Linked DNA regions of Homo sapiens. The protein of the gene in region 1 interacts with the protein of each later gene in a pairwise test. Each region holds a gene or a part of one and is shown on either strand. Other genes may lie near its edges. The genes, in order: KMT5A, H4C5 and H4C9.

The links.
Region 2: the proteins of KMT5A (region 1) and H4C5 interact in binary tests that used the Homo sapiens proteins (3 or more experiments, as listed by UniProt).
Region 3: the proteins of KMT5A (region 1) and H4C9 interact in binary tests that used the Homo sapiens proteins (3 or more experiments, as listed by UniProt).

What each region holds. Positions count from the first base shown.
Region 1 is NC_000012.12:123,404,586-123,408,245, forward strand, and holds part of KMT5A (N-lysine methyltransferase KMT5A), read left to right. Parts: intron 1-53; exon of another isoform or gene 54-166; intron 167-298; coding exon 299-489; intron 490-2,907; coding exon 2,908-3,118; 3' UTR 3,119-3,660. UniProt on the Homo sapiens protein: Protein-lysine N-methyltransferase that monomethylates both histones and non-histone proteins. Specifically monomethylates 'Lys-20' of histone H4 (H4K20me1).
Region 2 is NC_000006.12:26,203,237-26,205,681, reverse strand, and holds H4C5 (histone H4), read right to left. Parts: upstream 1,073-2,445; 5' UTR 1,038-1,072; coding exon 726-1,037; 3' UTR 661-725; downstream 1-660. UniProt on the Homo sapiens protein: Core component of nucleosome. Nucleosomes wrap and compact DNA into chromatin, limiting DNA accessibility to the cellular machineries which require DNA as a template.
Region 3 is NC_000006.12:27,137,863-27,140,189, forward strand, and holds H4C9 (histone H4), read left to right. Parts: upstream 1-1,419; 5' UTR 1,420-1,446; coding exon 1,447-1,758; 3' UTR 1,759-1,816; downstream 1,817-2,327. UniProt on the Homo sapiens protein: Core component of nucleosome. Nucleosomes wrap and compact DNA into chromatin, limiting DNA accessibility to the cellular machineries which require DNA as a template.

The DNA.
Region 1 (3,660 bases):
GGCAGTCTCCACCTAGCAGATCTCTCACGAGCTCTGATGTAACTGCTTTGCAGATGAGCACCAAGGAACCACGTTTGTGGAGTGAGGGAACGTTCTAGAGCTGGCCTGTAGTGACGGTTGCACAGCTGTATACACTTCATAAAACCCATCAGCCTGTACATGTAAAGTGAGTGAATTTTATGACATGGCTCAGTACAGCTGTTAAAGACTGGGGTAAGCCCCAGCTCCCCGGAGACCTGCTGTGCACAGTGGCATCCATTGCTATTATGAACCAACACCCTCTCTTATCACCTGACAGATTGACCTCATCGATGGCAAAGGCAGGGGTGTGATTGCCACCAAGCAGTTCTCCCGGGGTGACTTTGTGGTGGAATACCACGGGGACCTCATCGAGATCACCGACGCCAAGAAACGGGAGGCTCTGTACGCACAGGACCCTTCCACGGGCTGCTACATGTACTATTTTCAGTATCTGAGCAAAACCTACTGGTGAGTCCACTGTTGCTTAGAGTGGCTTTTCTGTCCTCTGGGCAGTGAGGAGAGGCCAAAGGGCCAGGAACTCCTGATTCTGTTTGGTGGCCAGTCTTTTGGTTTTGTTGTTGTTGACTTTTTTTTTTTTATTTTTTGAGATGGAGTCTTGCTCTGTTGCCCAGGCTGGAGTGCAGTGGTGTGATCTCGGCTCATTGCAACCTCCTCTCAGGCTCAAAGAATTCTCCTCCCTCAGCCTCCAGAGTAGCCCAGCTAATTTTTTTTTTCTGTATTTTTAGTAGAGGTGGAGTTTTGCCACATTGGCCAAGCTGGTCTTGAACTCCTGACCTCAGACGATCCACCCGCCTTGGCCTTCCAAAGTGCTAGGATTACAGGTGTGAGCCACTGCGCTCGGGCTGTTGTTGCCTTTTTTCAAAGCTGTGATGCAATTATCGCCTGCTTCCTTTTTTTTTTTTTTTTTTTTTTTTTTGAATCTCGATCTGTCGCCCAAGCTGGAGTGCAGTGGCACAATCTTGGCTCACTGCAACCTCCACCTCCCGGGTTCAAGGTATTCTGTCTCAGCCTCCCACGTAACTGGGATTACAGGTGTGCGTCACCACGCCCAGCTAATTCTTATATATTTTTTTAGTAGAGACAGGGTTTCATTATGTTGGCCAGGCTGGTCTGACCTCATATGGTCTGCCTGCCTTAGCCTCCCAAAGTTCTGGGATTACAGATGTGAGCCACTGCGCCTGGCCCCAGCTTCCCTTTTTTTTTTTCTTTTGAGACGGAGTCTCGTTCTGTCACCCAGGCTGGAGTGCAGTGGTGCAATCTTGGCTTACTGCAACCTCCACCTCCCAGGTTCAAGCGATTCTCCTGCCTCAGCCTCCTGAGTAGCTGGGACTACACACACATGCCACCATGCCTGGCTAATTTTTTGTATTTTTAGTAGAGATGGAGTTTCACTGTGTTAGCCAGGATGGTCTCAATCTCCTAACCTTGTGACCTGCCCACCTTGGCCTCCCAAAGTGCTGGGATTACAGGCATGAGCCACTGTGGCCCCAGCTTCCCATTTTTAATCTTTGGAATTGGAGCTGTCCTGGATGTTATCTCATCCAAGGGGAGAAGTGGGCTAGTCACATGAAAACCTGTTAAGCAGCTCACCTGGCTCTCCTTCAGGGCATTTGGCCAGAGCAGCTCTGGAAATCACTAATTGATCTTGCCTGGCTAGGACCAGTGGAGTTGAATTTTTTATTTTTTATTTTATTTTATTTTTTTGAGATGGAGTTTCACTCTTGTTGTCCAGGCAGGAGTGCAGTGGCACGATCTTGGCTCACTGCAACTTCCACTTCCGAAGTTTAAGCAATTCTCCTGCCTCAGCCTCCCAAGTAACTGGGATTACAGGCATGCGCCACCACGCCCAGCTAATTTTGTATTTTTAGCACAGACAGCGTTTCACCATGGTGGCCAGGCTGGTTTTGAAATCCTGACCTCAGGTAATCCACCCGCCTCAGCCTCCGAAAGTGCTGGGATTACAGGCGTGAGCCACCGCGCCTGGCGGGGTTGATTTTTTTAATCCATTTATTTTGTGAAACTCTACCATTTCCTCCTGTGCCTCCATAAAGAGCCCTTTGGGTCCTACCCCATCCCCCCACCCAGGGCCTGTGCAGGCTCTCAAAAATAGCTTTGTGGGCCAGGCGTGGTAGCTCATGCCTGTGATCCCAGCACTTTGGGTGGCCGAGGTGGATGGATCATGAAGGTCAGGAGCTCCAGACCAACATGGCAAAACCCCATCTCTACTAAAAATACAAAAAAATTAGCCTGGCATGGTGGCACACGCTTCTAATCCCAGTGACTCAGGAGGCTGAGGCAGAATTGCCTTACCCCGGGAGGCAGAGGTTGCAGTGAGCTGAGATCGTGCCACTGCACTCCAGCCTGGGCGACAGAGCGACGAGACTCCCTCTCAAAAAAAAAAAAAAAAAAAAAAAAGCTTTGCAAATTGAGCCAGACCTGGTGGCTCGTGCTTGTAATCTCAAAAACTCAGGAGGCCAAGGCCAGAGGATCACTTGAGCCCAGGGGTTGGAGACCAGCCTGAGCAATATAGGGAGATCTTGTCTCTACAGAAACAATTAAAAATTAGCCTGATGTGGTGGCATGTACCTGTGGTCAAAGCTACTCGGGAGGCTGAGGTAGGAGGATGACTTGAGCCCGGGAGGTGGAGGCTGCAGTGAGCCGTGATCGTGCCACTGCACTCCAGCCTGGGTTACGGAGCGAGACCCCCTCTAAAAAGGAAAAAGAAAATAGCTTTATGAATTGAATCTTTTCAAAACACATGGCTTTAAATCAGCATCCCACCAGAGCTGAGCACAAGTGTGACTCTCTTCAGGTTGAAAAGCCTCTTTATCCATTTAATCCTCTCTGGCCCTCCTTCCCCTCCAGCGTGGATGCAACTAGAGAGACAAATCGCCTAGGAAGACTGATCAATCACAGCAAATGTGGGAACTGCCAAACCAAACTGCACGACATCGACGGCGTACCTCACCTCATCCTCATCGCCTCCCGAGACATCGCGGCTGGGGAGGAGCTCCTGTATGACTATGGGGACCGCAGCAAGGCTTCCATTGAAGCCCACCCGTGGCTGAAGCATTAACCGGTGGGCCCCGTGCCCTCCCCGCCCCACTTTCCCTTCTTCAAAGGACAAAGTGCCCTCAAAGGGAATTGAATTTTTTTTTTACACACTTAATCTTAGCGGATTACTTCAGATGTTTTTAAAAAGTATATTAAGATGCCTTTTCACTGTAGTATTTAAATATCTGTTACAGGTTTCCAAGGTGGACTTGAACAGATGGCCTTATATTACCAAAACTTTTATATTCTAGTTGTTTTTGTACTTTTTTTGCATACAAGCCGAACGTTTGTGCTTCCCGTGCATGCAGTCAAAGACTCAGCACAGGTTTTAGAGGAAATAGTCAAACATGAACTAGGAAGCCAGGTGAGTCTCCTTTCTCCAGTGGAAGAGCCGGGACCTTCCCCCTGCACCCCCGACATCCAGGGACGGGGTGTGAGGAAGACGCTGCCTCCCAATGGCCTGGACGGGATGTTTCCAAGCTCTTGTTCCCCTAACGTCTCAACAGGCGCTCACTGAAGTGTATGAATATTTTTTAAAAAGGTTTTTGCAGTAAGCTAGTCTTC
Region 2 (2,445 bases), on another chromosome or scaffold:
ATGAGTTCCTAAACATTTGTCTCATGTGAGATAAATGCTAAATTTCAAGCTTTAGGGTTTAAAGAGAGTCAAATTCTTTTATTCAAAAAACAGCAAATATCATAACTTCTAAGGGACAACTGGGTTGGCTTAATAGAATTCCGAAATGAATGCTTGCAACCTCTCCTTGCGTGAGCTTATCTACCCCAGGAACTTCTACACACCTAAACTCGGTCGTTAGGTTAAGTAATAGAAAACAGGCCGCTAGAATTTAAGGCCCACACTCCTTTCCAGGAAGATGATTGGTTGCGCTAATTCGCGGGTCCGGCCCATTGCCAGGCACCGGCTTTGTTCTTCGCTCTCCGCCATTTTGAGCGGTTACGCAGTGTCTTGCGGTTTTCCCACTTATGTCGAAAACCATGCATTTTTAGGTACTCAAAATAAAAGTGGTAAGGTAAACAGACACTATTACCCTAGCCTTTTCAGTGCAATCTAAGGCCCTACTACAATAAACATAAAAGGATCGTAGCCTAAAAAATCGTATGCCGAAACCCCAAATGTAATTTGGAACGAAAAAAAAAAAACGGCTGAAAAATATACGTACCTGTTGACAGGAACAATTAACTTATAAAGAGACCAACCAATCGTCTAACAAGTCATGAGCTCTTTTGCGGAAAACTGTGGGCGGCCCTGAAAAGGGCCTTTGATTTGGGAAGTCGAGATGCTGAGTCGTTTAAGCGGTAGCATTAGCCGCCGAAGCCGTAAAGAGTGCGTCCCTGTCTCTTCAGCGCGTAGACCACATCCATCGCTGTCACTGTCTTGCGTTTGGCGTGCTCCGTGTAAGTCACAGCATCACGAATCACGTTTTCCAGAAACACCTTCAGAACCCCGCGAGTCTCCTCGTAGATGAGACCAGAAATGCGCTTGACACCCCCGCGACGAGCAAGGCGCCGGATGGCAGGCTTGGTAATGCCCTGGATGTTATCTCGCAGGACCTTACGGTGACGCTTAGCGCCTCCTTTACCCAGTCCCTTTCCGCCTTTGCCGCGACCAGACATGACCAACACACCAACGAAAATAGCCGCAAAAATCTGAAAAACAAGCGACGGTAGTATTCTTATATGCCGGGAATTCGGACCTAAATGAAGACTGAAAACGCGCATACGGGAACTTTGGTGCTGCCTGCTGGCCCTACCCTTCACAGATCAGACTGGGATGACGTCACCAACGACTCCAGTTCCCGCCGGCAGAGTCCGCTCTCCATGGAGTCATCTCTGCAAGTCTTGCGTTCCCAAAGAGGAAATTTAGGCATATTTTAACAACTAAATGAGATTAAATACATTAACATGTTTAAAATCATTTGCTGCTTGGGATGCTCTAGGACGATTGAACAGGAGCTTTGGCTCACAAGACCGGAACTGCAGTAATCTCCTTCCATGAGGAGTTCAGCTTTGTCCCCATAGGCACGGTTCCTCTGGCATTTCTGCTGCTTGCTCTCTTGGGGACGGAACCCCCTTAGGAAGTGTTTGAAAACTGCAAGATCTCACCCTCTCCACCACCAAGCCAAGGGAAATCTGACCAAAAGGATTTTCCTCCCGAAGAGAAAAACACGGATAATTAGTGATCCCGCCGGGCGTTGTGGCTCACGCCTGTAATCCCAGCACTTTGGGAGGCTGAGGCGGGCGGATCACCTGAGGTCGGGAGTTCAATACCAGTCTCCAACACGGAAAAACCGCATCTCTACTAAGAATACAAAATTAGCCGGGCCTGGTGGCGCATACCTGTAATCCCAACTACTTAGGAGGCTGAGGTAGGAGAATCATTTGAACCCAGGAGGCAGAGGTTGCGGTGAGCCCGGATCACACCATTGCACTCCAGCCTGTGCAACAAGAGCGGAACTCCGTCTCAAAGAAAAGAAAAAAAAATTTTTGATCCCATGAATTCTGGTCCTCGCTGTGGACGCCCGTATTACATTTTTGGCTTATTTTTCTTTCTTCCCTGTTTATTAAAATTTATAATTATCATTTAAATATCTAGCCAACTCGCACATCTAAACCTAGAAACTCACTGGTGTGTTAATGTTTACTTCTCTATTGTTAGTTTTCTGTTCTCTTTGATGCTGGTAGCAGCCTTTATCACAAGAGAATTGGCAACGTGTAATGGGCCAAGTTATTAAATAGGCGACTTCCTACAGGCTTTTAAAATAAAAGGTGTTGGGACTCAGAAAACAATGCTACAAAATGAAGGCCTCCGTAGTAACTTTTTCTCCTTCTCCTACCTTCCTCTTTCTCCCTCCCATTCTTCCCCGAAGCTAGCTATAGGAACTAGACTGCTTCCTTCCCAAGATGGAACATATAAACCAAAGCTAGACTCAAAGCTAGCCATAAAACCTAAAAAATATGAATCCAACTTTCCTTCTGCCTTTTTGTGTAAAAACTGGCAGTAAAGAAATTGCCTGGCCTACCT
Region 3 (2,327 bases), on another chromosome or scaffold:
ATGCAAAAATTTCTAAAGTATTTTAATGAAAAGTTTATCTTCATTTACTTTATGACATTTAAGTGGAATACTTTGAAAATACTTCAAGCACTGCTGTAAGGTACTCATTAAAATAAAGAGTAGCAAGAAAATCACCAAATGGGCCGGGTGCGGTGGCTCATATATTCAGTATATGATAATAAGTTCCTCAAATCAGTGGGGGAAATAGTTAATGTATTGTGCTGACTAACCAACTGATTAACTTTTTGAAAAGTTATTTCTATATACAAGAAATCAAGTCCTTATTAGTAAAGTTAGATTACTTTAAATGGTTCTACCCAGCATTAGTTAAGGTTGTAGGCATATCAGGAACTGCTACTGGTGCAGGGGCCAAGAGAAAACCTCCCTTTTGGCCTCTGAAAGTTCACTGAAAATCAACTGACAAGATTAATAAGAGAAAAGGCATACAAATTTATTAAGGTACAGGGCTGAGGACCACAGAATATTACCCCAACCCCCCAGTGGGGTACAGAAGCTTATATACTCTTTCTCAGAGGCAAAAGAGGAGATGGGTAATGTAGACAATTCTTTGAGGAACAGTAAATGATTATTAGAGAGAAGGAATGGACCAAGGAGACAGAAATTAACTTGTAAATGATTCTCTTTGGAATCTGAATGAGATCAAGAGGCCAGCTTTAGCTTGTGGAAAAGTCCATCTAGGTATGGTTGCATTCTCGTCTTCTTTTCTGCAGTAGATAATGAGGTAACCGAAGGCAATTGTGCTTCTTTTGATAAGAAGCTTTCTTGGTCATATCAGGAAATTCCAGAGAAAGTCCCTCCCTGTATTTGGGGAAGAGAAACAGGACAAAGTTAGAGGGACCTTGATTCTTAGACTTGTTTCTGAGAACCCTCAATTTTCAAAAACACCCACCATTACCAAGCTCGATATTTGGGGGGATAATTCTCCACCCCAAACACTAGAAATGAAAATAAGTAGAAAAGAACTTAGCAATATACCTGAACGATCTTTAAATTCTATGAGTCTATCTTGTTCTATTGCTAGGAATTTAGCATATGGAGTATATTTCCATTGTATATTAAGGAGAAAAATGCCACAAAATAGCATAGTTCCATACAAATAATGTTAAAGGAAAACATGCATATATGCAGAGATAACATTCTTTTTGCTTTATGTATCTTCTATAATGTTAACATTTTTGTTATGAGGCAGGAATCATGTTAAATGAAAAAAGGAAAAACAGCCTAGGTCTTGAGGATTAAAAAGGACTGAAGGAGAACAAGAGGGAGTAGAGCACAGCAGGCCTGTTTCCCTTTTAGGTCCCCTCCCCCAATGCAGAGGGACTTCCCGCCAAAGCTCTTCCGGTTTTCAGTCTGGTCCGCAGAGGTTACCCATAAAAGAAAGCTGCCATCACAGGCAGCAGACCTTTGTTCTCTGACCACTTGATAATGTCAGGACGCGGCAAAGGAGGTAAGGGCCTGGGGAAAGGGGGTGCCAAGCGCCACCGCAAGGTGCTGCGCGACAACATCCAGGGTATCACCAAGCCAGCCATTCGGCGCCTTGCTCGCCGCGGCGGCGTGAAGCGCATTTCTGGCCTCATCTATGAGGAGACCCGCGGAGTGTTGAAGGTGTTCCTGGAGAACGTGATCCGGGACGCCGTGACCTACACGGAGCACGCCAAGCGCAAGACGGTCACCGCCATGGACGTGGTCTACGCGCTCAAGCGCCAGGGCCGCACCCTCTATGGCTTCGGCGGCTAAATGGCATTTTGAAGCCCAGTCATTCTCTAAAAAGGCCCTTTTTAGGGCCCCTAAGCTTTCAACAAAAGAGTTGAAATGACTGCAAACTGAGTCTCTTAATAGGGCCATTGTCAGTGAGTTCTGTCATCCTATTTTACAAGATTAACTCGACGCCGAAAATGGGCTGATGACTACAGGTGACCTTGGGCCGAGATTTTTCCAAGGCCAGAAGAGCCTCTGCTGGCCAGTAACTTCTGGCGGCTGCCTGGAAATTGCCTGCAGCCGGTTTACCGCTCGGATTAGTTTAGAAAGCCAAGGGGTCTGCGGTCCAAATAGGGGCGGGCTAGATAATTAACTTCCCTCTGGACCTTCAAATACGTCTCAGGAGATAATGAGTTTGATGGGCTCCACTAAATGCTAGAACCTCCAGGAAAACTTCGTGGTGGCTGGTTTAAGAGGACTTGGCGGGCACAGAGCTCTGCATGGGGGGGAGGGGGACAGACCATGCTTTTACTACTGTAGAACAGTAGGGCAGTCTTAAGAGTCTTAGTAATAATATTCCTTTATATGTTTGCCTTTTAAATACTGGA